2 separate regions of the Homo sapiens genome follow, and region 2 is linked to region 1. The links come from fine-mapping of genetic effects on gene expression. A gene starts in region 1. The other region holds a variant in brackets. All regions are shown on one strand. Distances are between the middles of the regions.

Region 1 (16,619 bases):
GCACCATCTCCATGGCAGCAGTCTAGATGAGTTCATTTCAGAGGTCCCTCTCAACCCAGAGGCTCTACATCTCAATCTTTCTCCATCCTCCTCCTCAGCCTGGATCTTCTAGCCCAGAGCTCGCTGTACCAACTGTGTAGGCTGATTGAGGATTATCTGATGGATTGCCTTATGTTTAACTCTTCTCTCTTCCCAGAACACACTCACAGACACAAGTCAATTTTGTCTAGAAATTTATTGAACATAGTTAATCTATTACAGTAGAGGATCTGGACAATAAAAATAGTTATTTAAGCTTTTTATTTTCCCTGACCTAGTAGCTTTCATGTCTCTTAAAATTCCCTAAATTTTATTTCTCAAATCCCATATCGTGATTGGTTAAACAGACAGCCAAGAATCTGAGTCTATTTTTTGAGAATCTCAATCACATTTCTGGGAAATGTGACTTATTGAGTACATATTTATTTTCTCATTTCCATTCAGATAAATGACACAGCTTTGCTGGGAGGACTGACATCGGCCTCCTACCTGCTGGCATCCTATTTCTCTACCTCACCTCCCTCAAACTAAAGGATCTGTAACCACATATAAAGACCCACACCCAAGATGGCAGATAGGAACACAAGTCAATGTCATTGACTCAGCATTCCATTGTCCTCTTCACTGGCTTCCTCCTGCGCTTTCCACCTCCCTCAATCACCCTAGAAATAAGATGTCTGATTTATCGTAGAAAATTGTGACTCTCTTACATCTGGAGTATTCATGAAATTTTTTTGACTGGATAAATTTTGATGAAAATTAATGTAGAATTGCCTAAATTGTTAGAAGGATTTAAATAAAACAATCTAACTGATAAGTCTAAATACTGTCTTAATTTTTTTTTAAGACACAGGGTCTTGCTCTATCACCCGGGCTGGAGTGCGGTGGAAGCTCACTGCAGCCTTGAACTCCTGGGCTCAAGTGATCCTCCTGCTTCAGCCTCCAGAGTATCTGGGACTACAGGCATACTCCACCATGCCTGGCTAATTTTTTAACACTTTGTTGTAGAGAAGGAGTCTCACTACATTGCCCAGGCTGGTCTTGAACTCCTGGCCTCAAGCAATCCTTCCGCTTCAGCCTCCCAAAGTGCTGGGATTATAGGTGTGAGCCACCACACTCCACCCAGTTTTAGTTTTTCTAGAAAAGAATATAAACCACTGGACAAGGAAATTTCCAAATTATGGGAGAGTAAGAGGCAAAAAACAGGATTCAGGAGGGGATCACATTTCTACTCAATTCTGAAGACAGTGGGAGAGCATGGAGAGAACACTGGATTAGGAGTCAGAGGAATGAGGCTCTAGCCTCAGTTTTTTGTTTGTCTCACTGTCAGCTTCTTATCTGTCACAGGCTACATATAGGCACCCATTGTGACCCTGTACCTATTTTTATAAGTCCCTCCGGTCTGCTTCTGATTTTTGCTTATTCACTGCACCCATAGACACAATTTATACCATGAAGGTGCCTGATGCTTTTCTGATTCTACTTCTGCACAGAGCAAGGACATGAGTGCAGTGATGGTATAAGGGCCAACAAGTTGAGAGGCTGTAAGCCCAGCTCTCCTCCATCCTGCTACTGACATCAGAGCCTCTACTAGATCTGAGAGTGCCATGCACCAGACCTACTGTAATCGTGAAACCAATGATCCATATGACCCTAAAGTTATTGTATACTGGTGTTCAATGATCAGTGCGATTGGGTCTTTTTAAATTTTTTCCTTTCAATTTTTATTCATTCAGCAAATACTAAGCTCCCACTATGCACATAAGAGATGTTCAATCAATGTTAGATGAAGGGAAAATATTCAGAAATTCACAAGTCACTCCAGCACTCCAAAAACATACAACTCTTCATGCTCCTCCCTTCTCCGTTCTTGGCCTCATCTCTGCCCACATCACAGGTTGTTAAATGCTCACATGAACAAGAACTTAAGCACAGTATGACATGGCCTGTGACTTATACAAATGTCTGTCCCACCAAGAGGCCATCTTTTAAAGTAGGTACTAGTTCCAAGCCTAAAAACACCCTAACGGGTCTTCAGCTTCATCTGAGGATATGCCACAGTGATCATGCCTGCTATAGAGGACACAAGACCTCCAAGTCCAATGATGCCAGGATTGGATTTATAGATCCCCAGCTGGTCCAAAGGGTTCAGGATATCACAAAGGTTCTTCACTGTGTCCAGGAGCAAGGGAGGATGCTGCTTCAGAGATCGGAATAAAAGAAGTAGAAAGGATTGGAGCCATTCTGTTTCCTCCTCAGCCACGCTGAACCAAAGAGGATCCTGGGATGCTGATTTCTCTTTCTTTGCCCTGTCACATGTAACTCGTTTCATCTGCAGGGAGATTTCATACAGATCCCTGACCAGGCTCAGCAGAAGAGAATAGTAGTAGTGGTGAGCAGCCCTCGTTCGCCATTTCTCTTTGTTGATGCCAGAGGTGAGACCTACGCTCCTCACCCAGAGGATGGTGTCACAGATGAAATAAATCACACGGTTCAGGTTGGCTAATGTTAAGCATAAGCGAGGTACCAGGTCAGTGGCATGAATGCTCTGCTCAGTTGCCTGTATAGCATGTACCACATTGCCTAGTCTGAACCCTGCAAGTAGAACCCACAATAGTGAACAGTTATTTCATTAGTACACAACAGGAAGATAGAATCCCTGTATCAGGGTGAGGAGCCAGCTTTTTGTTGTTTTTTGTTGAGACAGGGTCTTGCTCTGTCACACCGGCTGGAGTGCAGCGGCACCATCACAGCTCACAGCAGCCTCAGTCTCCTGGGCTCAAGCAATCCTCCCACCTCAGCCTCCCGAGTAGCTGGGATTATAGGCACGAGCCAGTGTGCCCAGCTTAGCACTGGTCTTTTTAACAACTGATGGTCATTAAAGGCTCAGCCTTTGTTCAGAAAAAGAGAAAGATTTTACAGTACATTAAGGACACCTAAAGTGATCTTGGAAGGCAAAAAATACAGTGACTCTTTAAATTTACCTCCTCCATTGTAATGAACACCTTAATGTTGACTGACGGCATACTCCAGGCAAGGTCAATCATGAGTGTGGACTGTTACATTTGATTATTTACCAGCTACACTTCTTTAGAAGGAAGGTACTATGATAACATGAACTCCAGATGCAATACTCTCTTGGAGAGTCTGATGCCTTGCATTTTATTTATTTTCCAGACAAAAGACTGTCTTTTTAAAAAACACTATTATCATTTTGCCATTTCTCTGGTCCAAACCCCTTTTGGCTACCTATTGTCAAGAAGATAAAGTAGAAATGGTAGAATTTAATGGATAGAACAATTAATAATATTGTCACAGAGCTCCTAGTTGAATTAAATCAACCATTGCAATGGCACGTCCTTATGTGAGCACGTAATTCAATTAATCAGGGATGCATCAATCAATAGGTACTTACTGAACACCTTCTGAGAAAGAGTTATAGTACTAAATGTCACGGAGGATACAAAAGAAGTACTTTTCCTTGAAGGATCATACCTTAGACTCAGGAGGTGCTCAGAAGTAGCTACTCTCAGAAAACTTATAATCTCAGAAGGGGCTGGGCGCGGTGGCTTACGCCTGTAATCCCAGCACTTTGGGAGGCCAAGGTGCACGGATCACCTGAGGTTAGGAGTTTGAGACCAGCCTGGCCAACGTGGTGAAACCCCGTCTCTACTAAAAAAAATAAAAAATAAAAACAAACATTAGCCAGGCATATTGGCGCATGCCTGTAGTCCCAGCTACTAGGGAGACTGAAGTGGGAGAATTGCTTGAACCTGGGAAGCGGAGGTTGCAGTGAGCCAAGATCATGCCACTGCACTCCAGCCTGGGCAACAGAGTGAGACTCCATCTCAAAAAAAAAAAAAAAAAAAAAAAAGAATGTTTTGTATTATGTTATCAAAAATAACATAAAATAGTAAAATAGTATATGTAATGACTATTTTAGTATATAGATTCTGGGTTCCAGTTCTGGCCCTTGCACTAACTGGCTGAATGACCCTGGATAAGCCCCTTCTGGACTTACAGACTAGTGACCTCTAAAGGACCTTTCAGCTCCAACATTCTAAATAATCTAAATAGAATTTCTAATCTTGGCCTTCAGTGCCATCCAGAAAAGCTCGCCCTACCCTTCCCATCCCTCTGCTTGACAATTTAAATCTGTCAAACTAGTTTTGTAGTTTGACAATGATCCTCCCATACAATGGTTTACTCAGTTCTGAGCCTTTATTAGAGAAAACTGCCCTTCGAAACTCTCTTCTTCCTTCTCTCTAGCCTCACCTCAAGTTCCACCTCCTCTAAAACACCTTTCTTTTCCTCTACCTCAGCCAACAAGTTTGGCACTAAATCTTATATATCATTATTTAAAGCACCTTACTTCTCCCATAAGGCTCAGGAATGTACCTATATAACATAGGTGCTCAAAACCAACTGATCAATATGTGATGCTCTACATTCCATTCTAATGCCTCTGCTAACCTACTATAGCAACATCTGGTTTTCATCAAACAACAAAGACTCAGAAAGGCAATTGCTATGAAAAGTACTGGATTTCCCAGTATGACATATTATTAAAGTAAATTTAATAAACACAAAATATTGATTTCACTTTTTACCTTTGGCATGAAACCTACCTCAAACATGGTCTACAAAAATGTATCCACCTATATATCCTCTAGCACTCCTCAATAAAGGAAAAAGGCAGGTGGTCTAGGATATAACTATTCCACTCTTGTTTAGAATAAAGGGGCTCACAGGAGCAGAAGCTCATGTCAGAGACTGCTAAAACATACTATGATTCTAAGAACTAAAGGTGAACTAACACGTTGTCTGTCTCACTGGTTATGATTCAGCAGAAAGATAAGGTGTAGCACCAGATGTGAACATAAGAGGGTGTTTATGAATGGTCTGCAGCAACACATTCAAACCTGTTGTGCCATGAGGACAGCCTTACTGGTCAATTTCACCAATAAACTTGATTGACTAGAAATTAATGACCTAGAAATTACTCCGTGAATTACAGGGTCTGAGGCTGAGGATTCTAAACCAGGAGTCACTGTCCCTCAAGAAACAGGGTACTTACATTTACGACCAGTGCTCACACTGGACTCCAGTTTCTTGAGCTTCATTACCACCTTCTCTTTGCCAGCTTTGGGCTCTAACAAATATCTAAGCAACATGCATGTGTACTGAGTGGCTCTGAAATGGAAAAAAAAAAATTGAGAAGAATGATTTACAAACCAAATAAAACTTAATTCAGGAAGTAAGGGAAAGAGAAACACATGCCTCCAGACAACATTTCCAAGACCATTTCTCATGTAGCAACTCTTACAAAAGCAAAATTCTGCAACAGTCATTCTACAGGAGAGCCAAAGGGTAGAACATGTCATGGAAATTTAACACAAAGGTAATGAAAACAAATTCTGCAATAATGCAGCCAATGTGCCTCCAAAAGGCCTTTTGCTGGCACAGAGAAATGGATATAGTCAAAGTGAGAAACTGTACAAAATCTCCCTCATGTTAAGTCTACAAAGATCCATATTCCTTCTCTTCCCCAGTGTAGATTTCTTTCTTTGTTTTTTTTTTGTTTGTTTTTGATCGAGTCTCGCTCTTTCGCCAGGCTGGAGTGCTGTGGTGTGATCTTGGCTCCACTGCAACCTCTGCCTCCCTGGTTCAAGCGATTCTCCTGTCTCAGCCTCCCGAGTAGCTGGGATTACAGGTGTGTGCCACCACGCCCAGCTAATTTTTGTATTTTTAATAGACACGGGGTTGTGCCATTTTGGTCATGGCTGGTCTCGATCTCCTGACCTCGTGATCTGCCCTACTCAACCTCCCAAAGTGCTGGGATTGCAGGCATAAGCTACTGTGCCTGGCCTGATTTTCAGATTTCTAAAATGAACTTTTCTACCATGTACTTAACCTACCATCTATGTGACAGGACACAAACTCAAACCAGAACCAAATGAAAAGTCCACAGTTTAAAGATTGTTTAATTTTTTATAAACGAAAGGACCAAATACACATCAGTACATAAATTAGTATAAATATGTTTTCATAGTTGTCTTTCAAAACTTATTCGTATTTTACATAAAATACAGGCAGAATCCTGCTTAATAATACTATATATTTAATAAAGTGATTATTGTCATGCTTACAAATAACAATGACTTACTAATATAAATGTAGGAGAAATTTTACATCACATAGTCACACATCCAAATCCATTTGGCAATCTACTAATAAAGTAGGTGCCTGGTTCCTACTGTCTTGTAAGTGCATTTGAATCCCTTTATGCTATAAATATTATTCTCAATAAAAATGCGGTACATTTTCATTTTCTAAAATAGTGAACTTGTTACTAGGAATGAAATAAAAAGAGAAGACTGGAATCATAAACAATCGCTTTCTCTTTTTTAAGTGTCCTTCCTGGTTACAGGACTGGTCATGTCAATGATTCTGCCTTTCTGAGCTTTGGTCTAATAATAAGGATCAGGCCAACAGTAAGACATTACTTTTATTTATTTATTTTTGAAGTGAACATAAACTCGATTTTATTGTCTTCATAATAAAACAAAAGATGATACTTAGAACTGGATCACTTGGCCCTTTCTCTTCTTATCTCCTCCCAGTTCAAAATGCTGGCATCTTTTAATAGCCAGGATTCTCTTAGATCTTCACTGGGCTCAACACACTCAAGCTTTAGCACAAACTTCTTGGTAGTTTTAGACTTTTTCTGGAAAATCGGCTTAGTCTGCCCACCACAGCCACTCTGCTTCCTGTCATAATGCTGCTTTCCCTGGGCATACAGAGAATCCTTGCTCTTCTTGTACTATGTCACTTTGTGGGGTTGGTGCTTGCCACACTTCTTACAGTCTGACAGGTTTTAGGAATGTTCACCGTGTTTGCATGAGCATTATTGGCACAGAAAGCAAGGTATTATTTTATGAATGCCAGTGTGGTCATAAAGGTTATACAGATCATCAAGGAGGTTGGGAAATGAATGCTAGAGATCTCAGATCTTTTGGAATAAACATATCTTAAATTATTATTATTATTATTTTTCGAGACAGAGTCTCGCTCTGTTGCCCAGGCTGGAGGGTAGTGGTGCGTTCTTGGCTCTCTGCAAACTCCGCCTCCCGGATTCAAGCGATTCTCCTGCCTCAGCCTCCTGAGTAGCTGGGATTACAGGCATGTGCCATCACGCCCAGCTAATTTTTGCATATTTAGTAGAGATGGGGTTTCACCATGTTGGCCAGGCTGGTCCCGAACTCCTGACCTCATGATCTGCCCACCTCAGCCTCCCAAAGTGCTGGGACTACAGGTGTGAGTCACTGAACCCGGCCTAAATGATGATGATTATTATTTTTAATGTTTTTATTTTTTTTTTAGAAGGAGTCTCGCTCTGTTGCCCAGGCTGGAGTGCAGTGGCGTGATCTTGGCTCACTGCAAGCTTTGCCTCCTGGGCTCATGCCATTCTCCTGCCTCAGCCTCCTGAGTAGCTGGGACTGCAGGCGCCCACCACAACGCCCAGCTAATTTTTGTATTTTTAGTAGAGACAGGGTTTCACCATGTTAGCCAGGATGGTCTCGATCTCCTGACTTTGTGATCCGCCCACCTCAGCCTCCCAAAGTGCTGGGATTACAGGTGTAAGCCACTGCACCCGGCCTAAATGATTATTTTTTTAACCAACTTCCTTGATAAACCCTGCAGGGTACATTCTAGGTACACTGGAATTACAGGTTTCTATTTAATGAAATTTCTATTTAATGAAGCTTGTATATAAAGTAACCATTTAAAAAACCTATCAAACTAATGAGAAAGCCAGTATAGCTTGGTAGTTAAGTGGGCACTGGAGTCATTTGCGTGGATGTGAATCCCTCAGTTCTGCCATTGTAGTACCTATTAACCTCTTTCTGCTTCAGTTTCTCCATCTGAAGTGGGTAAAATATTTAGAGTATCTACCTCATAGGGTTGTGATGAGGGTTATATAAGTTCATAGTTGCAAAACACTGGGAACAATAGCTGTCATAAAGATGGCTTCCAAAAGCCTCATTATTGGGGCCATTCTAATTGATCTGTTTGTATCAGCACTTGCACACCCAGAAGAGAATGCAGAGCTGTTAAATAAAACTGCAACTGTAAATATTTTTTCATTAAGCAAGAATCAACCAAATCTCTAAAACATCATGAACTAGTACTGTATTCGTATTAAAGATACAATCTCTCAGTTCTTTTCGTTTCTTATGGAACCAAAAGAAAAAGAGACACAATCTCTGTTTAATATTTTCAGTAGCACAGCATGAACCTTAGAGGTGCAGTTAGTTCTTTCTGAGCTTCTCCCCACTGTATTTCCCCCCAATCCAGTTGGTGTGGTCTCATCCCCGCTATATTTTGTTTTACAATTTACAAAACTATTCCACATGCAGTATCTCAATGATACAGCCTGGGTAATAATGGAAGAGAACTTCTGTCTCTCCTCAAACATTTCAAGAGGTATTTGAGACCGGGCGCGGTGGCTCGCACCTGTAATCCCAGCACTTTGGGAAGCCGAGGTGGACAGATCACCTGAGGTCAGGAGTTCGAGACCAGCCTGGCCAACATGGCGAAACCCCCGTCTCTACTAAAAATACAAAAAGTAGCCGGGCGTGGTAGTGCACGCCTGTAATCCCAGCTACTCAGGAGGCTGAGGCAGGAGAATCGCTTGAACCCGGGAGGCAGAGGTTGCAGTGGGCCGAGACCGCGCCACTGCCTGGGCGACAGAGCGAGACTCCGTCTCAAAAGAAAAAAAAAAGAGAGATATTTGAAGTCACACCAAGTGGTTTGCTTCCCTAGCCACAAATACTAATCCAAAGTTTCTCTTTAAAGGAGATCCCTCGGAAGAATGTTGAGTGGAGAGAACCAATCTTTCTGTGCCCGGAGAGCAAAGTTAGGAGGGGAGGAGGATCTGTCAGCCGGTGTCCCGTCGTCGGCGGTCTCGAGGCGGCTAGGGTGCCAGGCACTGGGGCTTTCGTGCACGGGGCTAGGACGGGACGCGGGTGCGTTGGGCCCACTCACGTTGAATTTAGGGTAAGGAGGGGCTCGGATACTAAACTCCCTCCGTAGGAGCTGGCAACGTCCTTCCTGCTTCCATCTACTAGGCTATCACCTCCTTTTTCCCGGGTGCAGGGGAATAGGCACGGGAGCCGAGTTAGGGCGAGAAAGGGGCGGAGGCCGCTGGCACCTGACTCACCTGAAGAGTCGGTCCCGGCCCTGGGTCTGGTTGGTGAAGCGGGTGAAGGCGTCCATGGCTTCTAGCCCAAAGGCCACGAGTCGCACGGGGCTCAGGCGTGGGTCCTCTGGGGCCCGTCGGATCCCCAGGGAACGGTCAGTCCCAGGTTATCCGCTGAGGGGGAGGGGCTGAGTCTCTCCGCCCCAGAGGGGGCGGGCACACTTTCTGTAGAGCAACTTCGCGGACTTCCGGTTCAAGCCGGAAGTTGTGGTTACCAAGGCGACGCAACGCCGCCCGGCCAGGTGAGCAAAACTGATCTTACCTTTGGATGCCGGGGCTCCCCTCGAGTCCCAGGACTCCCCTTTACCTGTAGAGTCTCCTAGAGGAAAGTCTGAGGGGGTCCGTCTCCCCAGACTCGGGCGTTTCCGGATGCCTGACGCCTCCCCGCAGATCTCAGGTTCTCAGGAACCCGGGGTGATATCCCGAATGGTCTCTCCAGCCTCAGAACTCCCCTGAGCTCTTGCTTGGGACGGTGGGGCCTAATCATTTCCCAGCGCCGTGCCTCTTTCCCTTGAGCTACACCAGCTCTATGTCTGGTGAAGGAAGTGGTTAGGTCAGAGATAAGCCAATTTCACAGTGTGAACCTAGCATGGGAGGCGGATGAAGTGAGAAAATGTTCTGCTTGGATTATTGAACATTGAAAGAAGATTGTTACCTGAGGAAATCCTAAAAGAGTCATTATGAGCAAAGTGAAGCAAAAATAGATTGCAATGAAATTGCACCGCTGAACATTCGTTCTGTGCGGCTTGAAGAAAAGGAGCCTTACCCACTCCGTGGCAGTAATTTTATAAAATGTACCCTCTATAACCACAAAATAAGGTCGGCCGGTGCTGTGGCTTACGCCTGTAATCCCAACACTTTGGGAGCCGAGGTGGGCGGATCACCTGCGATCAGGAGTTGGAGACCAGCCTGGCCAACAGGGTGAAACCCCGTCTCTACTAAAAATACAAAAAAAGTAGCCGGGCGTGGTGGTGGGCGCCTGTAATCCCAGCTACTCGGGAGGCTGAGGCAGGAGAATCGCTGGAACCCAGGAGGCGGAGGTGGCAGTGAGCCGAGATTGTGCCACTGCTTTCCAGCCTGGGCGACAGAGCGAGACGCTGTCTCAAAAAAATAAAATAAAATAAAATAAGGTGAACATTTTCGTAATCTTTATTCCCTTGGTCAGGCCAGCTCCTAACATTTGCAGGCCCTGGGTAAGAGTACAAATGGAGTCCAGCACACCGTATGTTTAAATATTTTAGTTATAAATCAAGCAACAAATTGTAAAGTAAAATATAGTCTGTTTTCCTACATTGACAAATAGACCCTCATAATGATGTAGAAGGCCAGGTTCATCTTCAGAATCCCTAGACTCCTTAGAATACCTGGAAACACAGCTGGAATATGGCAGTGTGGGGAGAAATGGCTCCCAGTCTTTTCCCACTTCCCTTTCTTTTCTGGTTTCTGGTGCCCACCTGCATTCCCTGCCAGGAGCCTTGTATACCATCCTGATACTCCAAGCCACATCCAACGTCTGCCCGTACCTCTGCAAGCAGCCATGCCTTTGCCACCTTTTCAGATCGAGGAGTGCTCACATTAGCAGCTGGGTCTGCCCTCAGGTGAAAGCTGAGAAGGGCTCATGCAGGCCATGGTGTCATTTGGGCAGTAAATTCCAGGGGTATTGGTACCCTGAACATGGTCTAGACTCCAGAAGAGGGAAACTAGGCTTTGGGTGAGCATATCTCCTTGGCCCCATGGGTTACTCATTTTTTGTAGAGGAAAGAGCCTCGAAGAGAGCCAGAAGTTTTCTCTAAATACGTGGCCCAGGTCAGGGCAATTCTGCAAGCAATGAGAATTTATTGAGTCCTGGCCATATACCAACCACTGTGCTAAACTCTAGTCGTAGGGTAATAGGTTAACAAGGAACACAGTAAACTGATAAGTACAACACAGAGATATGTTAGATGATAGAGGTGAGCACAGGGTGCTTCTAAACACAGATGTGTATCATCTGTTTTTTGTTTTTGTTTTTGAGACAGAGTTTTGCTCTTATTGCCCAGGCTGGAGTGCAATGGCGCAATGTCAGCTCACTGCACCCTTCGTCTCCCGGGTTCAAGCGATTCTCCTGCTTCAGCCTCCTGAGCTGGGATTACAGGCATGCGCCACCACGCATGGCTGATTTTTTATATTTTTAGTAGAGATGGTGTTTCACCATGCTGGTCAGGCTGGTCTGGAACTCCTGACCTCAGGTGATCCACCTACCTCGAGCTCCCAAAGTTCTGGGATTACAGGTGTGAGCCACCACGCCTGGCCTCATCTGTTTTTTATACCTACAATTCTGCCTTTTTCACAATATCATATAAATTGAATCATATAGTATGTAGCGTTTTCTTTTCTTTTCTGATTTATTTTACTTAGCATAATGCATTTGAGATTATCTATGTTGTGCACATCAGTAGTTTGTAATTTTTTATTCCACAATGTGAATGTATTATAATTCATTATCCATTCACCCACTGAAGTACATTTGTGTTGTCTCTAATTTGAAGCCATTATAAATAAAGCTGCTATAAATATTTAAGTACAGATTTTGATGTGAAACATAAGTTTTAATTTTCCTACTGTAATATGCAGGAATGTGATTGCTGAAACATATGGTATGTTTAACTTTGTAAGAAACTGCCAAACTGTTTTCCAAAGTGGCTATCCTATTTTGTATTACCACTGACAATGCGTGAGAGCTTATCTGTTTGCCTGTTGGTGGACATTGGGTTGTTTCCACTTTGGGGCTCCTACAAATAAAGTTGTAATGACTGTTCGTGTACAAGTCTTTGTATGGACATATGTTTTCAGTTCCCTTCTACCACTCCTAAGAGTGGAATGACTGGATATGATGGTAGATAATGTGTTTAACTGTCCTGCAGGGGACAGGCCTATGCAAACCTACCCCTAAAAGTCTGAGAAAGCTGAGAGGCCAAAGCAAGAGGCTGACATACCCAGTTTCTCAGAAACAAACATTTAATAAATAAATACAATTTAAACAAACAAACAGAAGCCATGTCTCAGGAGCAAGACAAGATGGTGGATCCCTGCCATTATCCACCAGACCCAGGGTTTCTGTGCTATAGAGAAAGGTGCTTCAGAAGGAATGTGTAAGATAATTGCTTAAGGACAGAATTTATGGCAAGAATGATAACATCAAGGTTGTTTTGACCTAAGGGCAATATTTACAGTAAGTGGTGCTCTTACACAAGGAATGAGTCAAATGGAAATCTTAGAGGTTTTTCTGGAACTGGGGATAATCAGAAGTTAACATGGAGGATTAGCATCTAAGATGGAGTTGCTTTGGCCTCCACATTAGCGTTTTAAGAAATTGCCAAACTGTTTTCCAAACCAGTTGTACTATTTTGGTTTCCCAATAGTGTGTATGAGCATTCTTATTGTACATCTTCAACAACACTTTCATGGTCTATCTTTTTAACTTTAGGCATTTTAATATACGTGTAGTGGTATCTCATGATTTTAATTTGCATTTCACAAATGACTAATGATGCTGAACATCTTTTTATGAGTCTATCTGCCATCTGTATATCTTCTTTGGTTAAGTATCTGTACAAATTTTTTGCACATATTTAAAAATTGTTGGGTTATTTCTTTTTTTTTTTTTTTTTTTTGAGATGGAGTCTCGCTCTGTCGCCCAGGCTGGAGTGCAGTGGCACGATCTCGGCTCACTGGTTTCACACCATTCTCCTGCCTCAGCCCCCCGAGTAGCTGGGACTACAGGTGCCCACCGCCATGCCCAGCTAATTTTTTGTATTTTTTAGTAGACATGGGGTTTCACCATGTTACCCAGGATGGTCTCGCTCTCCTGACCTCATGATCTGCCCGCCTTGGCCTCCCAAAGTGCTGGGATTACAGGCGTGAGCCACTGCACCCGGCCGGGTTACTTCTTTTATTACTGAGTTTTGAGAGTTTTAAAAATACTCTGGACAAAAGTACTTTATCAGATAAGTGACTTGCACATATATTTTCTCCCCATCTGAGGATTACCTTTTATTCTCTTAACAGTGTGTTTTGAAGAAACACAAGTTTATTTTTGAAAAGGTTTAAATGACCAGTTTGTTCTTTTTAGGTTATACTTTAATGTCATATCTAGGAAATCTTTGTCTAAGAGAAGATTGCCAAAGTTTTCTTCTAGAAGTTTTATAGTTTTCAGTTTTACATTTAGGTGTATGATTTTACTTTGAGTTAATTTTTGCATATGGTGCAAGGTATGGATCGGCATTCATTTTTTTCCTATATAGATATCTAATTGCTCCAGCATTATTTGCTGAAAAGAATATCCTTTTTCCACCGAATTGTCTTTGTGCTTGTGTCAAAAATAAGTTCTCCATATATGTTTGCATCTAATTTAGGACTCCCTATTTGATTTCATTGATCTGTTTGTTTATTTTGATACCAATACCACACTGTCTTGAATATTGTAACTTTGTGATAAGTCTTGAAATTAAGTAGTGTTAGTCCTCCAATTATGAGTTGTAAAGTTAGCTTCTTAATTTCTGGAAAAAAAAAAGCCACCTGGGATTATCATAGGGATTGTGTTGAATTTGTACATGAATTTGAAAAGAATTGACATTTTAACAAAATTGAGTCTTCCAACTCATAAATAAGGTATCACACTCTCCATTTATTTAGGTCTTCTTTAATTTCTGTCAGCAATATTTTATAGTTTTCAGTATGTGGGTGGGTGTTTTTTAGAGAGGGAGTTTCGCTGTATTGCCCAAACTGGAGTGCAGCAACATGATCATAGCTCACTGCAACCTTGAACTCCTGGACTCAAAGCAATCCTCTCACCTCAGCCTGCTGAGCTGCTAGAATTACAGGTGCAAGCCACCTTGCCTAGCCCAGGATACAGGTTTTATATATCTTTTGTCAGATTTATCCCTAAGTAGTTCATGTTTTTGATACTGTTGTAAATGGTATTTTTATTTCAATGTTTGGTTTGTTATTGCCAGTACATAGAAATACAATCAGTTTTTGTATATTGAACTTGTATCTTACCACCTTGCTCTCCTCATTTATTAGTTCTAGAAAATGTTTTTGTAGATTTCCTCAGATTTCCTATATAAGCATATCATCTGGAGATAAAGACAGCTTTATGTTTTTCTTTCCACTGATGAAGTAGTTCCATCACTCCAAAAAACTCCCTCATGCTGTCCTTTTTTTTTTTTTTTTTTTTTGAGACAGAGCCTCACTCCGTCACCCAGGCTGGAGTGCAATGGCACAATCTCAGCTCACTGCAACCTTTGCCTCCCAGATTCAAGCGATTATTGGTCCTCAGCCTCCTGAGTAGCTGGAATTACAGGCACACACCACCACACCCAGCTTATTTTTGTATTTTTAGTAGAGGTGGGGTTTTGCCATGTTGCCCAGGCTGGTCTTGAACTCCTGACCTCAAGTGATTCACCCGCCTTGGCCCCCCAAAGTGCTGAGATTACAGACATGAGCCACCATGCCCAGCCATGCTGTCCTTTTTGAATAACACCCTTCCCTGCTTATAACTCTTGACAAACACTGATCTGTTCCCCATTACTCAGTTTGCATTTTTGAGAATGCTGTATAAATGGAATTGGACTGCATATAAATTTTGAGACTGTTTTCTTTCACTCATCATAATGTCTTTGAGATTCATCCATGTTGTTGTGTGGATCAGTAGTTTTTTGCTTTTTATTACTGATTAGTATTCTATTATATGGATATACCACAGTTTGTTTATCCATTGATAAACCTGTTGAAGGACATTTGGATTGTTTCCCATTTTTGACAATTATAAGTAGAGCTGTCATAAACATTTGTGTAGAGGTTTTTGTGTGAACTTACATTGGTGGTGGTGGTGGTGGTGGTGGTTGTTTTTGTTTGAGACAGGGCCTCACTCTGTCACGTAGGCTGGAGTACAGTGGTGTGATCATGGCTCACTGCAGCCTTGACCTCCCTGGCTAAAGCAATCCTCCCACCTCAGCCTCCCAAGTAGCTAGGACTACAGGTGCACATCACCACACCCAGCTAATTTTTGTATTTTTTGTATAGATGAGGTTTTGCCATTTTGCCCAGGTTGGTCTTGAACTCCGGGGCTCAAGCAATCTGCCTGCCTTGGCCTCCCAAAGTGCTCGGATGATAGGTTAGTTTTAATACTCCTAGGGTAGATACTCAGGAATGGGATTGCTGGGTCATATGGTAAATATATGTTTAACTTTATAAGACACTGTCAAATCCTTTCTCAGAGTGGCTGTCCTGTTCAGCATTTTCAACAGCAATGTATGGGAGTCCAGTTGCTCTGCATCTTCACCAGTGCTTAGTATTGTCAGTTTGTTTGTTTGTTTGTTTGTTTTTTAGAGACAAAGTCTCACTCTGTTACTCAGGCTGTAGTGCAGTGGCATGATCACAGCTCACTACAGCCTTGACCTCCCTGGCTCAAGCAATCCTCCTACCTCACCTGGGACTGAGGTGCACGCCACCCCCACCCCAGTGGTTTTTTAAAATTCCTTGTAGAGATGGGGTCTCACTGTGTTGCTTAGACTGGTGTCAGACTCCTGGCCTCAAGCAATCTTCCCACCTTGGCCTCCCAAAGTGCTTGGATTACAGGCATGAGCTGCCACACCTGGCACTATTTTTTTTATTTTAGCCATTCTAATATGTATGTAAAATATTTTAAACATATATTTACCATATGACCCAGCAATCCCATTCCTGAGTATCTACCCTAGGAGCATTAAAACTATTAAAAGTGATCCATGGGTTATTAAGAAGCGTGTTAGTTTCCTAATATTTTGAGGTCTTGTATACATTGAACCATCGAAATTTCTGTTATTGATTTCTAAAATAATTCTGTTGCAGTCAGAGAACATACTTTGTATTATTTAAGTTCTTTCAAACTTAGTAAGAGTTGGTTTATGGCCTGGAATATGGTTTGTCTTGGTAAATGTTTCATGTGCACTTAAAAATAATTTGCAATCTGCTGTTTTGGGTAGAGCGTTCTGTAACTGTCAATTGGAAAAAATTACTTAATAGTGTTATTGAAGTTTTCTGTATCCTCACAGATTTTTCTGTTTATGTGTTCTATAATTTATTGAGAAGAGGGTATTGAAATCTCTGACTATAATTGTGGATCTTCCTGTTTCTCATTAAATTCTATCCATTTTTACTTTGTGTATTTTGAAGCTCTGTTATTAGGTGCATAAACATTTAGGACTTTTATACCCACTTGATCAATTGACACTTTTATAATTTTTTTTTTTTTTTTTTTGAGACGGAGTCTCTCTCTGTCGCCCAGGCTGGAGTG
Region 2 (16,619 bases), 26 kb after region 1:
GGGTGACAGAGCAAGACTGTTTCAAAACACACAGATACACACAGAGACACAGACACACACACACAAATAAAAAATAAAACAACAAAGAAAAAAAGGAAAATAAAAAAATAAATAAAAACACCATACCAAGTGTTGGCAAAGATATGCAACAATTGGAACTCTTCCTATGCACTGCTGGTGGTAAAGTATAATAGTACAACCACTTTGGCAGTTTCTTCAAAAGTTAAACATGTACTTACCATGTGATCCAGCCATTCCACTCCTAAGTATTTATCCAGGAGAAATGAAAGTGTATGCCCATACCAAGGCTTGTACGTGAATGTTCATAGCAGCTTTATTTGTAATAGCCAAAAACTGGAAACCATCCAAATGTCCATCAACAGGTGAATGGATAAGTAATTGTGGTGTATCCATACAATGGGATATACTATTCAATAAAAAGGAGTGAACTATTAATGCATATAACATGTATAAATTTCAAAATAATTATGTTAAGTGAAAGAAGTCAGATAAAAATACATAACTGTTTGGTTCCATTTTTATAAAACTGTAGAAAATGCAAACTAACCTAGTGATGGAAAACAGATCTGTTGTTGCCTGGGGCAACACAACACAGGCAGGAGGAAACATTTGGAGGTGATGGATATGTTCACTGTCTTGATTGTGGTGTTGGTTTCAAGAGGTACACATATGTCAAAACTTATCTAATTGTACACTTCAAACATGCTATTATGTCATGATACCTCTAATAAAGCTGTTAAAAAATTTCAAATTTCTGCTCATCGAAAGATGCTATTAGAGTTCAGTCAGTAGCAGGAGCAGAGAGCGGACCCCAGAGAGCCCTGAACAGCCCCACCTCCACCCGTCCTAGTGACAGTCACACCCTGGAGGAGCTACAGTTGTCGCAGCTGGCTCTAGTCACCATCACCACTACCCTGAGCAAGGAGGCTGAGACCCAGCAGCTGCCAGTCCTCAGCAGTGCCCACATCTGCACCATAAGAAGTGGTTGCTAGGGTGGCTAGGACAAGAGCGTCATTGCAATGAAAATTTCGGAAACAGATGATTCAATGTCAGGAATGGCTATGTTTTCATCCACAGAAAGGACATCAAGGAGGTGTATTTGGACACAGACAGTCATAAAAGAATAACCCCAGGAAGTGCTTTCCCAGTGTAGTAGATGGAGTTTGAGGTTATTGAAGGGTATGGAGGTCGCAAATGTTACAGGCCCTAATTGCATTCCTATGCAAGGCAAGTAGATCTGCAGCAGACTAACCATTATGAATGCTGTCCGCATTGTAGGGCCAGTCCTCCACTCACTCACCAGCCGAATTATCAGAACAGTGAGAGTGGGGAAATGACCAAAGGTCAGAGAGTGTTCCTGAAGGCCAGGCTCAACAGCTGGCCCAGGCATGGGCTTCTAGCCTGTGGCGACCCTGTGGGTACCCACATTATTGTGGTGCACCACTATTGTGGCTGTGACGGCCAGGTGCCCACACTATTGCAGCCGTCCGGTGCAGGGAGAAGTGATGGAGGTACTGATAACCAGGGTGCAGGAGAACAAGGTGGACCAGTGACACAATCCTACACCACAATTCTCCAGGGCCCCTTCTCACCAAAGACAGAGAGGTCAGCAATGAAGAGGAAAAGGAAAATCAAGATGAGACACAAGGTCAACAACTGCAACTTCAGTTACAGATGTAGATGTCCAGAAAATCCTAAACCCCACTGTGGCAGAGACAAAAGCAAGGGATCCACCAGCTGAGAATGCCTTGGATCCTGAGGCTGGGCAGGGTGGGGGTGATTTATTTATTTATTTTTTGCCTGTTAACCAGATAACTAGAACTAATTGCATTATCAGTGCAGCATCTGGTTTTTAAAAAGCCAAACTGCAAACTGCTAATAAAGGCCTTAAATAATAATAAATATAATAAGAAAATGTAAAAACAAGCCAAAGACTGGGAGAAAATACCTGTTTTATATATATATACTTTATATATATTTATATATCCTTCAAAGTATTTGTATCCAGAATATATAAAGAACTCCAAATCAGTAATAAAAAGACAACCCAATAAAAAATAGGCAAAAGACTTAAACTGACATTTACAAAAGGAGACAGTGTTTCGCCATGTTGCCCAGACTGGTCTTGAACTCCTGGACCCAAGCAGTCTTCCCACCTTGGCCTCCCAAAGTGCTGAGATTACAGGTGAGGTAGTTTCTTACAAAGTTAAACCTATGATACATCAAGCCCATTTTTAGGTATTTACCCAAAAGAAATGAAAACATTTGTTCACAAAAAGATTTGTACAAGATGTTCATAGCAGCTGTATTTGTAATAAAAAAAAAAATAATCAAGGCCGGGTACAGTGGCTCCTGCCTGTAATCCCAGTACTGTGGGAGGCTGAGGCGGGCGGATCACGAGGTCAGTAGAACAAGACCATCCTGGCTAACACGGTGAAACCCCGTCTCTACTAAAAATACAAAAAATTAGCCGGGTGTGCTGGCACGCGCCTGTAGTCCCAGCTACTTGGGAGGCTGAGGCAGGAGAATTGCTTGAACCCAGGAGGCGGAGATTGCAGTGAGCTGAGATCGCACCACTGCACTCCAGCTTGGACGACAGAGTGAGACTCCGTCTCAAAACAAAAACAAAAACGAAAACAAAAAAACATAATCAGAGAACAAATAAAAATTTGTGGTAGACTAAGTCAATGGAACACTAATCGGCAATAATAAATAATAAACAACTGATGATTACAACGCAGCAGATGAAACTCAAAAACATCAAGTTGAATGACAGAAGCCAGACACAAAAGAGTAGGTTCTAATTATGAAATTATATGAAACTTAAGAACAGGCGAAATTTATCTGTGTTAGCGATGGAAAGCAGAACATTGGTTGCATATGGAAGTGTAGTTGGCTCAAACAGGCATACGGTAACTTTCTAGGATAATGGTAACGTCCTATACCTTGACAGGGTGTTAGTTACAGGGACGTATAAGTTTGTCAAAACTCATCAAGTTATGCATTTAATACCTGTGCCTTTACCTATATTTAAATTTTATCTTTAAATAAACTCTCCTAAGAAAAAAAAAATACTGGGAATGTCCCGCAACTCATTTTATGAGACCAGCATAACTATGATATTCAAATTATCAGGGATGTTACAAAAAAAGTACTGTTGGTGGATTAAAACACATAAAAATATTTAAAATCCATTAATTCATGATAATATATTTTAAATACTTTATTGTCACAACTTTGGAAGTTGTGAGGGAAGTTTCAGAAACTCAGTATTCTGAAAACTGATAAGGGAAAGAATCAAGCTTTTATTCTGACTTTTTCATATGGGCAACCAATTTCAAGGCAACAAAATGGTTGATGATGGAAAGATCTTCCTTATAGAAGAATTCTAATAAATGCAGAAGGAATGATAGAACTGAGGTATCCTACTTTTGTTGCCTATTACAAAGAATGGTCTAGGCAATAACCACCAATGGCTGATGGGGAAGTTTGTAATAAAGGAGTCAGGATGATAACTGTTCTCAACTGTCAACCTTAACATTACTAAAAGAGAGACAACCAGCTATTATGAGCCTCCTGATATGATGCAGTAGGAAGGACACAGTGCACCTGTGGAGTGTTCTTGCCAAAACATTGAACCTAAACCTAATCAAAGCTGTAGATCTGATTATCAGTTTACAGGAAATACAGGAACCATGGAGATGCAATCAATCCAGTTCACAATGCGAAAAATTCCATAGGACAAATGACACGGTTTCTTCAACAAATAAATGGCAAACAGAAAAACAAATGAGGGAGCTAATATAAATTAAGAGACTTAGGAGATACATTAGGCCGGGCATGGTGGCTCATGCCCCTATAATCCTAGCACTTTGAGAGGCCATCTTGGGAAGATCACTTGCAAGCCAGGAGTTCAAGACCAGCCTGGGCAACAAAGTGAGATTCCGTCTCTCTTAAAATTTTTAAAAATTAGCGAGTCTCAAAAAAAAAAAAAAAAAGATAGCATAACCATTCACATTGAGCCCCTCTGACCTTATCCACAATTTGAGCAGGTTTCATACTAAGGTTACATTCAGTCTCTACCATAGTCTAAATAGAGCCTTTTGTCCAGCAACTACCAGAGTTTTCAGTGTCATGTAGAATTTATTTCCATTTAGTTGAATAATTGGATGCCAGCATAGGCTTTAGGGTTTGCACACCTGACGAGGAGATCCAATAGTATGCCAGATGTCACCAGGAGCATTTAAGAAACCAGGAAATAAGTTCAAAAACCTTACATAGAAAAGCGAGTTCTACTTCTTTACATATCATCTTGTCCAATTCTTGTACAAAAATGGGAAGTATGAAGCAGTTTGAAGCATCTTTTCATGTCCCAAGGTTTAAAAGGATCTCTGTTCCTGGGTGCAGACCACAGAAGGTCCTGAAATACATTCTCTGTCAGCAGGCTATGCCTACTCTATCAACATCTCTTTTGTTTTCAGGATGATACCAGCAAGCAAACTACCTGTATAAAGATGGAGATCTCTCAAGGAGGGGACTTTGCAGCCTTCCTCCTACAAGGCAAGATTAACCAAAGACTGTTAAGGTTCAAATTTTCAGTCTCTTCCAATCTTCCAAATGATTGCTTTTGTCCCTCCAAACCTTTTATTTAGAAATTATTTTCAATTCAAAGAAGAGTTGCAAAGAAATTACAGAGTTCCCTTATGCCCTTCACCCAGCTTCCCTAATATTAATGTTCAACATGGCCACACCACATTTGTCAAAACTAAGCAAATGACATTGGTACAGTACTATTAACTAACTCTTAACTACAGATTTTTTTTTTCGGATTTCACTAGTTTTTCCACTAATCTTTTTTTTTTTTTTTTTTTTTTTGCTCCAAAGTTCAATCTGGGATACCATATTATATTTAGTCATTGTGTCTCCTTAGTCTCCTCCTACCTAGGATGGTTTCTTGGCCTTTCCTCATTTTTCAAGGCCTTAAAGAGTACCAGTCAGGTATTTTGTAGAATGTCCCTCAATTTCAGCTTGTCTGATATTTTTCTCATAATTCAACTGGGGTTAAGGATTTGGGGGAAGATACAACAGAGGTGACAAGCTTTTCTCATTGCATCATATCAAGGGGTACATGATAGCAGCATGACTCACTACTGCTAATACTAACCTTGATCACTTCAAGTGGTGTCCGCCAGGTTTCTCCACTGTAGAGCTACTGTTTTCCCCTTCCCATCCTCTGTAAGGAGCAAGTCACTACATCCAGACCACACTCAAGGGAAAATGATAGAAGTACCACCTCCTGGCCAGGCGCGGTGGCTCACGCCTGTAATTCCAGCACTTTGGGAGGCCAAGGCAGGCGGATCACCTGAGGTCAGGAGTTCAAGACCAGCCTGGCCAACATGGTGAAACCCGTCTCTACTAAAAATACAACAATTAGCCAGACGTGGTGGTGGGCACCTGTAATCCCAGATACTGGGGAGGCTGAGACAGGAAAATCGCTTGAACCTGGGAGGCGGAGTTGCAGTGAGCCGAGATCGTGCCATTGCACTCCAGCCTGGGCAACAAAGAGCGAAACTCCATCTTAAAAAAAAAAAAAAAAAAAAAAAGTATCGTCTCCTGGAGGTAAGAGAATCAAAGAATTTTTGGACATGTGTTAAAACCACCACAGTAATTAATAAACACCTTGAGGGAGATACTTTGAGAGGATGCTGATGTGCTGTTTCTCTTTAATGTTTTACCCACCAATCTCAGCACTCATCATTGGATCTTGCCTGCTGCAGTTATCACTGGGACAATAGAACATATTTTATTCAAATGCTTGTTGCCTTGATTTTTAACCTTTAAATATTTAGATACATGGTATATTGGCCTCTATTTTATACTCTTGTCCAAGCCCCCTCCAATGTCAGGTATTTGAGGAACATATGCATTTTATTTTGTTTTTTTTTTGAGAAGGAGTCTTGCTCTGTCACCCAGGCTGGAGTGCAGTGGCATGATCTCGGCTCACTGTAACCTCTGCTTCCCAGGTTCAAGCGATTCTCCCACCTCAGCCTGCCAAGTAGCTGGGATTACAGGTACCTACAAGCATGCCCGGCTAATTTTTATATTTTTAGTAGAGACGGGGTTTCACCATGTTGGCCAGGCTGGTCTCGAACTCCTGAGCTCAGGTGATCCGCCCGCCTCGGCCTCTGAAAGTGCTAGGATTACAGGCATGAGCCACCACGCCTGGCGAAGGATATGCATTGTATAATGCTTTGTGTATTCAAGGAAACTTGTGCACCATCTGTATTGGTTTCCTGAGCCTGTCATAACAAAGTACCACAAACTGGGCAGCTTAAAACAATAGATATTTATTCCCTCAGAGTCCTAGAGGCCAGAAGTGTGAAATTAAGGTGACCAGAAGATTACTTTTTAAGAAAAAAATTTAGCCAGGATCCCATACCATGGGAGAACAACCTTTCCTAGGTTAACATATATTTGCTATAGAAGCTGAGCATGTTTCTTTGACAAGATAAAGTCCCACAGCCAACCCATGGGTTGTTATCTCCTCAAATATTGGTCAGAAGAATTCTTTAGGTACATCTTTCCCAATTCTAACCCTTCCTCAGACACACTTCTCTCAGTTGCTGATTCTGTATTTGCTGCCCTCCTCCCCAGACAGGTAAAACTGAAGGCAAAATGTCAGTGGATGTGATCACTTCAGCAGCACATATACTAAAACTGGAACGATACAGAGACGATTAGCATGGCCCCTCTGCAAGGATGACACACAAATTCATGAAGCATTTCTTTTTTTTTTTGAGATGGAGTTTCACTCTGTTGCCCAGGCTGGAGTGTAACGGCCTGATCTCGGCTCACTGCAACCTCCACCCACTGGGTTCAAGTGATTCTCCCACCTCAGCCTCCCGAGTAGCTGGGATTACAGGTGTACACATCACCATGCCCGGCTAATTTTTGTATTTTTAGTAGAAATGGGGTTTCACCATGTTGGCCAGGCTGAGAACTCCTGACTGCAGGTGTTCCACCCACCTCAGCCCCACAAAGTGCTGAGATTACAGGCGTGAGCCGCCATGCCCGGCCCCATATTTTTTTTAATGTCAATGGAATTTACCATTTGCAACAAAGAAAATGTGGGGGCTGGGCAGAACAATTTGGTTAAAAAGCTGTTGCATGAGTGCTGTTAGTGTGAGAAGCCCCTGTTTCTCTTAGATAGGTGGTGGTGGGTTGAGGGGATAACTCTCCATGGGAAAGTTATGTGGGGCATGAGGACTTGCAATAACCATTGCAGAACTACTTCTCCTTCAGTATGTCAAAGTTGCCTGGTATGGAGGTGGCTGGTCTCTTTGCCAGCAGTTCTAAGAAGAAGACAGGCCATTTCTCAGAGGAAACTTGTGGCTCTCTTACAGTTGCTCAATGGTTCTCTGGTTTCCCAATGCAGGAGCCGGAGATATTTGGCTGGATGTGTATAAATTGCCCAAGGAGACTTGGCTCAAGAAACTAGAGCACCCCCAACTCACTTCAAATCCAAAGAAAAAAGTCAGACAGCCGCAACTGGTAGGAAATATCTCTGCTTTCAGCTGATATGTTTCTCCCTACCCCTGACCCACATCTAGCCCAAGTCCTTGGAAACTTATGGTGAATGAGGCCTCTGGGCTATAAGAGAGGACAACAGGAATATTGGCCCCTGTCTCCCAAGTCAATTTCCTTTGGTTAAAATAAGATATTAAAAAGTAGAGGTGTCTTCAGTAGTGGGAATCGCAGTATCTCTAGTCTGGGAGTTGCCTCTCCACTGAGACCACTCCCAGGCATTTCTCTGGAAGGAGGGTCTTTTGTCCTGACTCCTGCTTCACTGGTAATCTTTTTTTCCCTCCTGGCTGAAATAATCTTTTCATGCCTCAAATTCCATTAAATTTTTCCAGACTATGGTATAAAGAGGTTGTTCTCAATATACAGAAATATATATATATTTTCTATTATCCTTAGAAAGTAGAAACTCTACCATTTCAGTTTATTTATATATGATGACTGGGCCTTGTGCTGTTTTTTTGTTTTTGTTTTTGTTTTTTGAGTCTCGCTCTGTTGCCCAGGCTGGAATGCAGTGGTGCGATCTCTGCTCACTGCAACCTCTGCCTCCCGGGTTCAAGCAATTCTCTTGCCTCAGCCTCCTGAGTAGCTGGGACTACAGGTGCACGCTGCCATGCCAGGCTAATTTTTTTGTATTTTTAGTAGAGACGGGGTTTCACTGTGTTAGCCAGGATGGTCTCAATCTCCTGACCTCGTGATGTGCCCGCCTCGGCCTCCCAAAGTGCTGGGATTACAGGCATGAGCCATCGCACCCGGCCTGTGCTATGTTTTTAAGATATAGTTGCTCAGTAAATATTAAGACTTAATTTGCTTATTTATACAGTGTATGCTTATTATTTTTACTTTTAAACCACCAACATTAATATATTAATATTAACTGAGCATCCCTTTAAAATACATTGTATTAGGTGCTAAATAAATTAGTGAAATTATTAATATAGGAGACCAAGATTGAGAGTTACATTCACTGCTGAGCTCAAGTGGCTTTGAATAAATGCCTTTATGGCCAGTGAATATCTTCATAATGGAGTGTAGTCCTATGTCCCTGGGAAAGTTACTAGCCCAGAGATATTCCTCCTCTAAGCTATTACAGAATGTTATTATTTGTATGTATTTTTTGACACTTCTCACATACTGCCTAGGTTTGTAGTTATCCTGTTATACATGAAAATCCTCTTGTCTTCAATGGATAATAAATTTCTAGATTGTTAAGATCATACCTTCTGCTTTTTATCAACAAATTCCATAGTATCATACTTGGTACTCAAAAAGATATATTTTTGTTTGGACTAATTTGTTATCCAAATAGGAAAAGCACCTTGAATGGGGTGGTTTCTCACCATAATTCACTTCTTTTTCATACACTGAGAAGCAGCCAATGAATGCCAGTTACAGTGGTAGTTCTTTTACTACGAATTATATTTAGAGTTACTTAAATGTAATTCTCAACATCACCAATATGTTTTGCCAATCAGAAATATTTGCCTCAATTTGGATTCTTGTAATGGTGTTCTGACTGATCTCCTCAACTCTATTCATTCAGATTTCCTCTTGTTATTAACTATTTCCTGTTTCCCCACCTACCTTTTAAGATCCTGAAAAATAGGGATCGTGTGTTGAAGTTCTGCAGGCCAGAGGCCCACACAAATACTGGCCCTCCACATCTGTTGCATGAATTCACTCACAAGAGTAATTGAGGGGAAGAGAGAGCATGCCAGAAGATTAAAGGGGGTGGTAAACATACATCAAACCTATTGTGAATTAATTTCTCATTTTTCTTCTCAGAACTCCCTTGGTCCCATTTCTGCAGATCCTTTAGAAATGGTAAGAAACTTTAAAGAAAATCTCCAGAGAGACTTAAGTTTGTATTTTAGAGATTTTTTAAAAATTATTATTTTTCTTTTCTTTTCTTTTTCTTT[C/CTT]TTTTTTTTTTTTTTTTTTTTTTGAGACAGAGTTTCATTCTTGTTGCTCTTGTTGCTCAGGCTGGAGTGCAATGGAGCGATCTTGGCTCATCGCAACTTCTGCCCCCCAGGTTCAAGTGATTCTCCTGCCTCAGCCTCCTGAGTAACTAGGATTATAGGCATGCACTACCACGCCCGGCTAATATTGTATTTTTAGTAGAGACAGGGTTTTCTCCATGTTGGTCAGGCTGGTCTTCAACTCCCGACCTCAGGTGATCTGCCTGCCTTGGCCTCCCAAAGTGCTGGGATTATAGGCGTGAGTCACCACACTGGGCCCAAGATTTTGATTTTTACTTGAAATTTACCCTAAATGTCAAATATGCTAATGAAATGTTCCACCTGGGCACTATTTTCAATTCTCAGTGACTTAATCTTGTGCCTCATATCCATTGAAGATGACCTCCCGTCCCTGAGGACAGTTGACCCAAGTCATTTGGCCAGACGTGGGTTTACCTGAAGTTAAGGGAGCTTAAATTTCAGGGCCCCTCACTTGGGCCCCTGGAAGGGGCCCTAGCAATGTGTTCATATGGTTATATATTTTTGTAAAATTAGCAAAGGTAACATATTGTAACCATAATCACTTAATTCCACTACCTCTTCACTCTAGCTTTCCTCTGTCACAATTTCCTCCATATTAGATGGAATTACAGTGGCCATGGGCATTTTGTGTTCATAGTTCTGTCTTCTTTTTCTTAAAAGAGGGTCCTATGAATCCTGGATTTGCCTCTACCAAAATAACAGCCCAATTCACCAAGCCGAGTAACTTGGGGGTTTTGTGTTTGTTTTGGAATACCTTAGAGAACAGAGCAGTTTCCCTGGAGCTTCCTGGCTCTTCCTCTGAGACCAGGAACATACCATGTCTTCAGAAAGCATGGCTCTTGGAGGACTCAGGCGTGTCAGTAGAGTAGTGGTGAACTTCTGAAGTGGAAGTATCTCGCTAGAGCCCCTTCTTTTTTCCCTTTCAAAGTTACATTAGGCCAGGTGGGGTGGCTCATGTCTGTAATCCCAACACTTTGGGAGCCTAAGGCAGGAGGATCTCTTGAGCTCAGGAATTTGAGACCAGCCTGGGCAACACAGCAAAACCTTGCCTCTACAAAAAATACAAAAAATGGCCGGGTGCAGTGGCTCACGCCTGTAATCCCAACACTTTGGGAGGCCGAGACAGGTGGATCACGAGGTCAGGAGTTTGAGACCAGCCTGACCAACATGGTGAAACCCCATCTCTACTAAAAATACAAAAATTAGCCGGATGTGGTGGCGTGTGCCTGTAATCTCAGCTACTCAGGAGGCTGAGGCAGGAGACTCGCTTGAACCCGGGAGGCGGAGGTTGCAGTGAGCCGAGATCACACCACTGCACTCCAGCCTGGGAGACAGCTGTCTAAAAAAAAAAAAAAATTAGCCAGGTGTAGTGGCATGTGGCTGTGGTCCCAGCTACTCAAAAGACTGAGGTGGGTGGATGGCTTGAGCCCTGGAGTGGAGGCTGCAGTGAGTCGAGATTACACCACTGTACTCTAGCCTGAGTGACAGAGCAAGACCCTGTCTCACAAAAAATAATAAAAATAAAAATAGTTATATTTCACATTGTACAAATAATATATGAATATATCACTCTTGGAAAAGTCAAGGAATTCAGATAAACAGCCCTCTCCAGAGGTAATCACCATTATTAGCTTGACATGTTTTTTTGTTTGTTTGTTTGTTTTGTATTTTTAGTAGAGACAGGGTTTCACTATGTTGGCCAGGCTAGTCTCGAACGCCTGACCTCAGGTCATCCACCCGCTTTGGCCTCCCAAAGTGCTGGGATTACAGGCATGAGCCACCGCGCCCAGCCCCAGTTGATGTGTGTTTTCTAGATCTTTAGTGTGTATTTACATCTTACGTTTATTTTGAAAAATACAGTTTTGTTTCATGGAATTTTTTTTCTACATAAGTGGCATCATACTGTATATATTTTCTTATAAACTTGCATTTTTTTACTCATCAATTTGTTTGCACATTTTTTTCTTTTTCTTTTTTCATTTTGAAACAGGGGCTCACTCTGTCACTCAGGCTGGAATGTAATGGCATGATCATGGCTCACTGCAGCCTCAACCTCCTGGGCTCAAGCAGTCCTCTCACCTCAGCTTCCCAAATAGCTAAGACTACAGTTGTGTGCTGCTATGCTTGTCTAATTTTTAAAAATTTTTATAGAAAAACATGTTGCTCAGGCTGGGCATTATTTCTTCTTAAAATGTTAGGTAGACTTTACTAATGTGTCCATCTAGTCCTGGAGCTTTCTTTGTGGAACTACAAATTCAACTCCTTTAATAGATAAAGCACTATTCAGGTTATCTATTTCTTCTTGAGCAAGCTTTTGTACCTTGTGTCTTTCGAGTAATTTGTCCATTTTGTCTAAGTTGTCAAATTTATTGGCTTAAAGTGGTTCATAACATTCCATTATTATCCCTTCATTGTCTTTAAAATCTATTGTGATGTCATCCCTCTCATTCCTGATATTGGTAATTTGTGTCTTCTCTCTTTTTTTCTTAATCAGTTTGGCTAAAGGTTTGTCAATTTTATTCATCTTCTCAAAAGAACAATATTTTAGTTTCATATATTTTTCCCTATTGTTTTTCTGTTTTCTATCTCACTGATTTCCAGTTTGTTTTTATTATTTCCTTTGTTCTGCTCACTTTGGGTTTAGTTTCCTCTTCTAATTTCTTTCTTTCTTTTTCTTCTTTTTTTCTTTTTTTTTTGAGATGGAATCTCGCTCTGTCACCCAGGCTGGAGTGCACTGGCATGATCTTGGCTCACTGCAACCTCCGTCTCCCAGGTTCAAGCAATTCTCTGCCTCAGCCTCCCGAGTAGCTGGGATTACAGGTGCCTGCCACCACGCCTGGCTAATTTTTGTATTTTTAGTAGAGACGGGGTCTCACCATCTTGGCCAGGCTGGTCTTGAACTCCTGACCTCGTGATCCCACCTGCCTCAGCCTCCCAAAGTGTTGGGATTATAGGCCTGAGCACTGGGCCCAGCTCCTCTTCTAGTTTCTTAAGGTAGAAGCTCAAATCATTGAGATCGTCTTTTCTGATATAGGCATTTAATGCTATACACTTGTATCTAAGTACTGCTTTAAAATTTGATTTTTTTATTTTCATTCATTTCAAAGTACTTTATAATTTGCTTTTGTATTTCTTCTTTGACTAGTAGGTTTTTATTTTTTTATTTTTGAGAGAGAGTCTCATTCTGTTGCTCAGACTGGAGTGCAGTGGTGCAATCTTGGCTCACTGCAACCTCTGCCTCCCGGGTTCAAGCAATTCTCCTGCCTCAGCCTCCCAAGTAGCTGGGATTACAGGCACATGTCACCATGCCCAGCTAATTTTTGTATTTTTAGTAGAGATGGGGTTTCACCATATTGGTCAGGCTGGTCTTGAACTCCTGACCTCGTGATTCGCCCGCCTCGACCTCCCAAAGTGCTGGAATTATAGGCGTGAGCCACTGCACCCAGCCGACTAGTAGATTTTTAGAAGTATGTTATTTAGTGTCCAAATATTGGAAATGTTACAGCTGGCTTTTTTTATGGGCTTCTCATAAAATCCGTTGTGATCAGAAAATCCATTGCGATCAGAAAACATACTTTATATATTTGAATCATTTTAAGTTTATTTAGATTTGTTTTATTCCCACAATGTGGATTATATTGGTAAGTGTTTATATGTACTTGAAAAGGATGTTTGAAGACCAATAAAGCTGTTATTGGTCAGGCTATTCAAGTTTTTCTCCTTTCTGTTTTTCCTTTTATATCCTTACTATATTCTTACTGATTTTCTGTTTACTTATTCTGTACTTATTGAAAAAGGAGTCTCTAAGATTGTAGATTTATCTTTTTCTTCTTTCACTCTTACGAATTTTTGCTTCGTGTATTTTGAAGCTTTGTAATTAGATGCTTAACAATTTGGAATGTTTTGTCTTCAGATGAATTGATTGTTTTGTCATTATTCACTGACCCTTTGATTCCTGATAATATTCTCTGTTCAGAATTCTTCTATGTCAAATACTAATATGGCCACCCAAGCTTTCTTTTGATTCATTTTAGCAAGATATATCTTTTTCTGTACTTTTATTCTTAACATGTTTGTGTCATTATATTTAATATAACGAGTTTCTTCTTTTTCCCTATGGTTTCAGATAGTGTTTCATAAAATGAGTTTCTTGGCCACATGTGGTGGCTCACACCTGTAATCCCATTACTTTGGGAGGCAGAAGCAGGAGGATCACAGGAGCCCAGGAGTTCAAGATCATCCTGAGCAGCATGGCGAGACCTCATCTCTGCAAAACTAAATTAGCCAGGTGTGGTAGTGCACACCTGTGAGATCCCAGCTATTCAGAAGGCTGAGGTGGGAGGATTGCTTAAGCTCAGGAGGTCGCTCCTGCAGTGAGCTGTGATTGTTCCACTACACTGCAGCCTGGGTGACAGAGCAAAATCCTGTCTCTCACACACACACGCACACACAAAGTTTCTTTTTGACCTCATATAGTTGGGTCTTGCCCTTTCTAAAAAAACTGTTTCAAAGATGGGCTCTCGCTATGTTGCCCAGGCTGGAATGCAGTGGCTATTCACAGGCACAGTCATAGCACATTGCCACCTCAAACTCCTGGCCTCAAGCGTTCTTCCCACTTCAGCCTCCAGAGTAGCTGGGACTACAAGTGTGTCACCATGCCCAGTAAGGGTCTAGCCTTTTTATAGAGTCTGACAATCTCTGCCTTTTCACTGGGGTTATTTAGACCATATACATTTAATGTGATTATTTATATGTTTGGGTTTAAATCTACAGTCTTGCTATTTACTTTTACAATCTTGCTATTTACTTTCTATTTGTCCTCTTATTTTTCTTTTTCCCCTTCTTTTCCACCTTCTTTTAAAATTAGTATTTTTAATTATTCTATTTCCTCTCTTCTCTTGGCTTATTAACTATGCCTTTTCCTTGTTTTAGGATGCAAATGTTAGTTTTAAAGGAGACATTAAATTGAGTCTTCCAGTTTACATAATGAAGATCAAACCACCTAAGCCTGTTACAGGTAAGTGTGATTCAAATCTCTCTCCTTTTGCCATTGATTTATCTGTTCTTTCTTCCTTTCCCCATGTCTTATCTTTTCAACTTATTAGCAACGATATCAAAATTACAAACATAGTTATGAAGAGGAAATTTTTTTTAAACCCATAAGCTCTGAGACATTAAAACAAAAAATGTAAGTAATGCATTTGTATTACATACAGTTAACTAACAGAATTGGAAGGTCAGGAGAAAAAGATATCTTTTCTGAATTGCCAGGTTGAGTTCATTTATTCCTACATTTCTGTGCTGATTCATTTGACTGCTAGTTGTAATACATTCATTCCTACATTCTTGTGTTAATTTATTCATTATTATTTGCTGAATGCCCATAATGCACCAAGCACAAAGATGAGTAAAACACCTCTCCTCTCCTGCACTCTAGAAGTTGATAGTCTACTAAGGGAGAATGACAAGAAACCACCATAGTAGGATGTGATAAGTACAGCAATGGGGACCATCAAGGGCTGTGAAAACTCAGGGTAAGAAGCGACTGACTTGCTAGGGAGTAAGGGACATTTGGGCACAGTTTCAAAGAAAGGGACTTGGTCAAGAGGAGCAGAGAGGCTAGCTATTGTAGGCGGCAAATACAGAGGATATCCTCTCAGCATTCACACATGATCACAAAGACATATCTATAAGAATGTTCACCCCTGGTGGACTAGTAGTTACGATTAAAAAAAAAAACCAGAAAAATGTTTACGGTAGCATTATGTACAGAGGTGAATAATTGGTTAAATAAAATCTGGGCCGTGTGCGGCGGCTCGTGCCTATAATCCTAGCACTTTGGGAGGCCAAGGTGGGCAGATTGCTTGAGCTCAGGAGTTCAAGACCAGCTTGGGGAACATGGCAAAACCCCACCTCCACAAAAAATACAAAAATTAGGCAGAGTGGCATGCACCTGTGGTCCTGACTACTTGGGAGGCTAAGGCAGTAGAATCGCTTGAGCCCAGGAAGCAGAGGTTGCAGTGAGCTGAGATTGTGCCATTGCACTCCAGTCTGGGAGATGGGAGTGAAACCGCGTCATAAATAAATAAATAAATAAATAAATAAATAAATAAATAAATCTGGTACACTCATACAAAAGAATACTTTGCAACCATTAAAAAAACAAAAGAGAGGCCAAGTGTGGTGGCTTAAGCCTATAACCCTAGCACTTTGAGAGGCCAAAGGAGGAGGATCACTTGAGCCTAGGAAGTTGAGGCTGTAGTGAGCTATGATCACACCACTACACTCCAGCCTGGTGACAGAACAAGACCCTGGTTCAAAATCAAGAACAACCCCCCGAAAAGGGAAATGCCAAAGGCGAAGAATAGACAATTTTCTCTTGTAAAAGAATGTGGTGGTCAGACTTGCTCTATCAATATTTATTATAAAGCTGCAGTTATTAAGATAAAAAATAGATAAGTGAATAATAGAAATATAGATGAAATATAGAAATATAGATAGATAGAAATAGCAGATAGAAAAATAGAGGAAAAATAGGTGAATGAAGCAGGATACAGAGACCAAAACAGACCCAGGCATAAATGGACACTTGATGCATTACAGAGGCAGCGCTATGGAGCTCTGGAGAAAGGGTGGCCATTTCAATAAGTGGTGGTGGCTGTTTATGTGGAGACAAAAATAAAACTTAACCCCTGCCTCATGTCGTACACAAAACTAAATTCCAGATGAACTGTAGAAGTAAATATATGAAAGGCAAAGCAGTAAAGCTTTTAGAAAATAAATATACTCTTCAGGCCCGGTGCAGTGGCTTATGTCTGTAATCCCAGCACTTTGGGAGGTCGAGGCAAGTGGATCACTTGAAGCTAGGAGTTCAAGACCAGCCTGGCCAACATGGCGAAACCCCGTCTGTACTAGAAATACCAAAAAAAAATAGCTGGGCGTGATGGCGTGCACCTGTAGTTCCAGCACTTTGGGAGGCTGAGGCAGGCAGATTGCTTGTGAGCTCAGGAGTTCGAGACC

Alleles and levels. Alleles are on the strand shown, and positions count from the first base shown. SD is a standard deviation of normalised expression in the study named.
For the expression in Th17 cells of the gene that starts at base 9,440 in region 1, CTT is the high allele of the variant in region 2 and C is the other (large effect, 1.3 SD a copy in Schmiedel 2018).

Evidence for each region.
Region 2: its variant is fine-mapped to the expression of PEX11A in Th17 cells (Schmiedel 2018, PIP 0.91).

Annotation. Positions count from the first base shown.
Region 1 is chr15:89,681,315-89,697,933 of GRCh38, forward strand. PEX11A (peroxisomal biogenesis factor 11 alpha) reads right to left here and starts at 9,440. Exons shown (of 3, transcript NM_003847.3): 1 at 9,263-9,440; 2 at 5,117-5,232; 3 at 221-2,634. The coding sequence starts at 9,318. The coding sequence ends at 2,063. WDR93 (WD repeat domain 93) reads left to right here and starts at 9,497. Exons shown (of 17, transcript NM_020212.2): 1 at 9,497-9,543. It also overlaps the pseudogene RPL36AP43. RefSeq lists an enhancer at 9,275-9,364.
Region 2 is chr15:89,707,524-89,724,142 of GRCh38, forward strand. It overlaps WDR93 (WD repeat domain 93), which reads left to right. Exons shown (of 17, transcript NM_020212.2): 5 at 4,503-4,581; 6 at 7,457-7,572; 7 at 9,388-9,426; 8 at 14,532-14,616. It also overlaps the pseudogene RNU6-132P. Among named protein-coding and RNA genes, the nearest start is that of WDR93, 25 kb to the left of the region's middle. The variant C/CTT (reference allele first, on the strand shown) is at 9,522.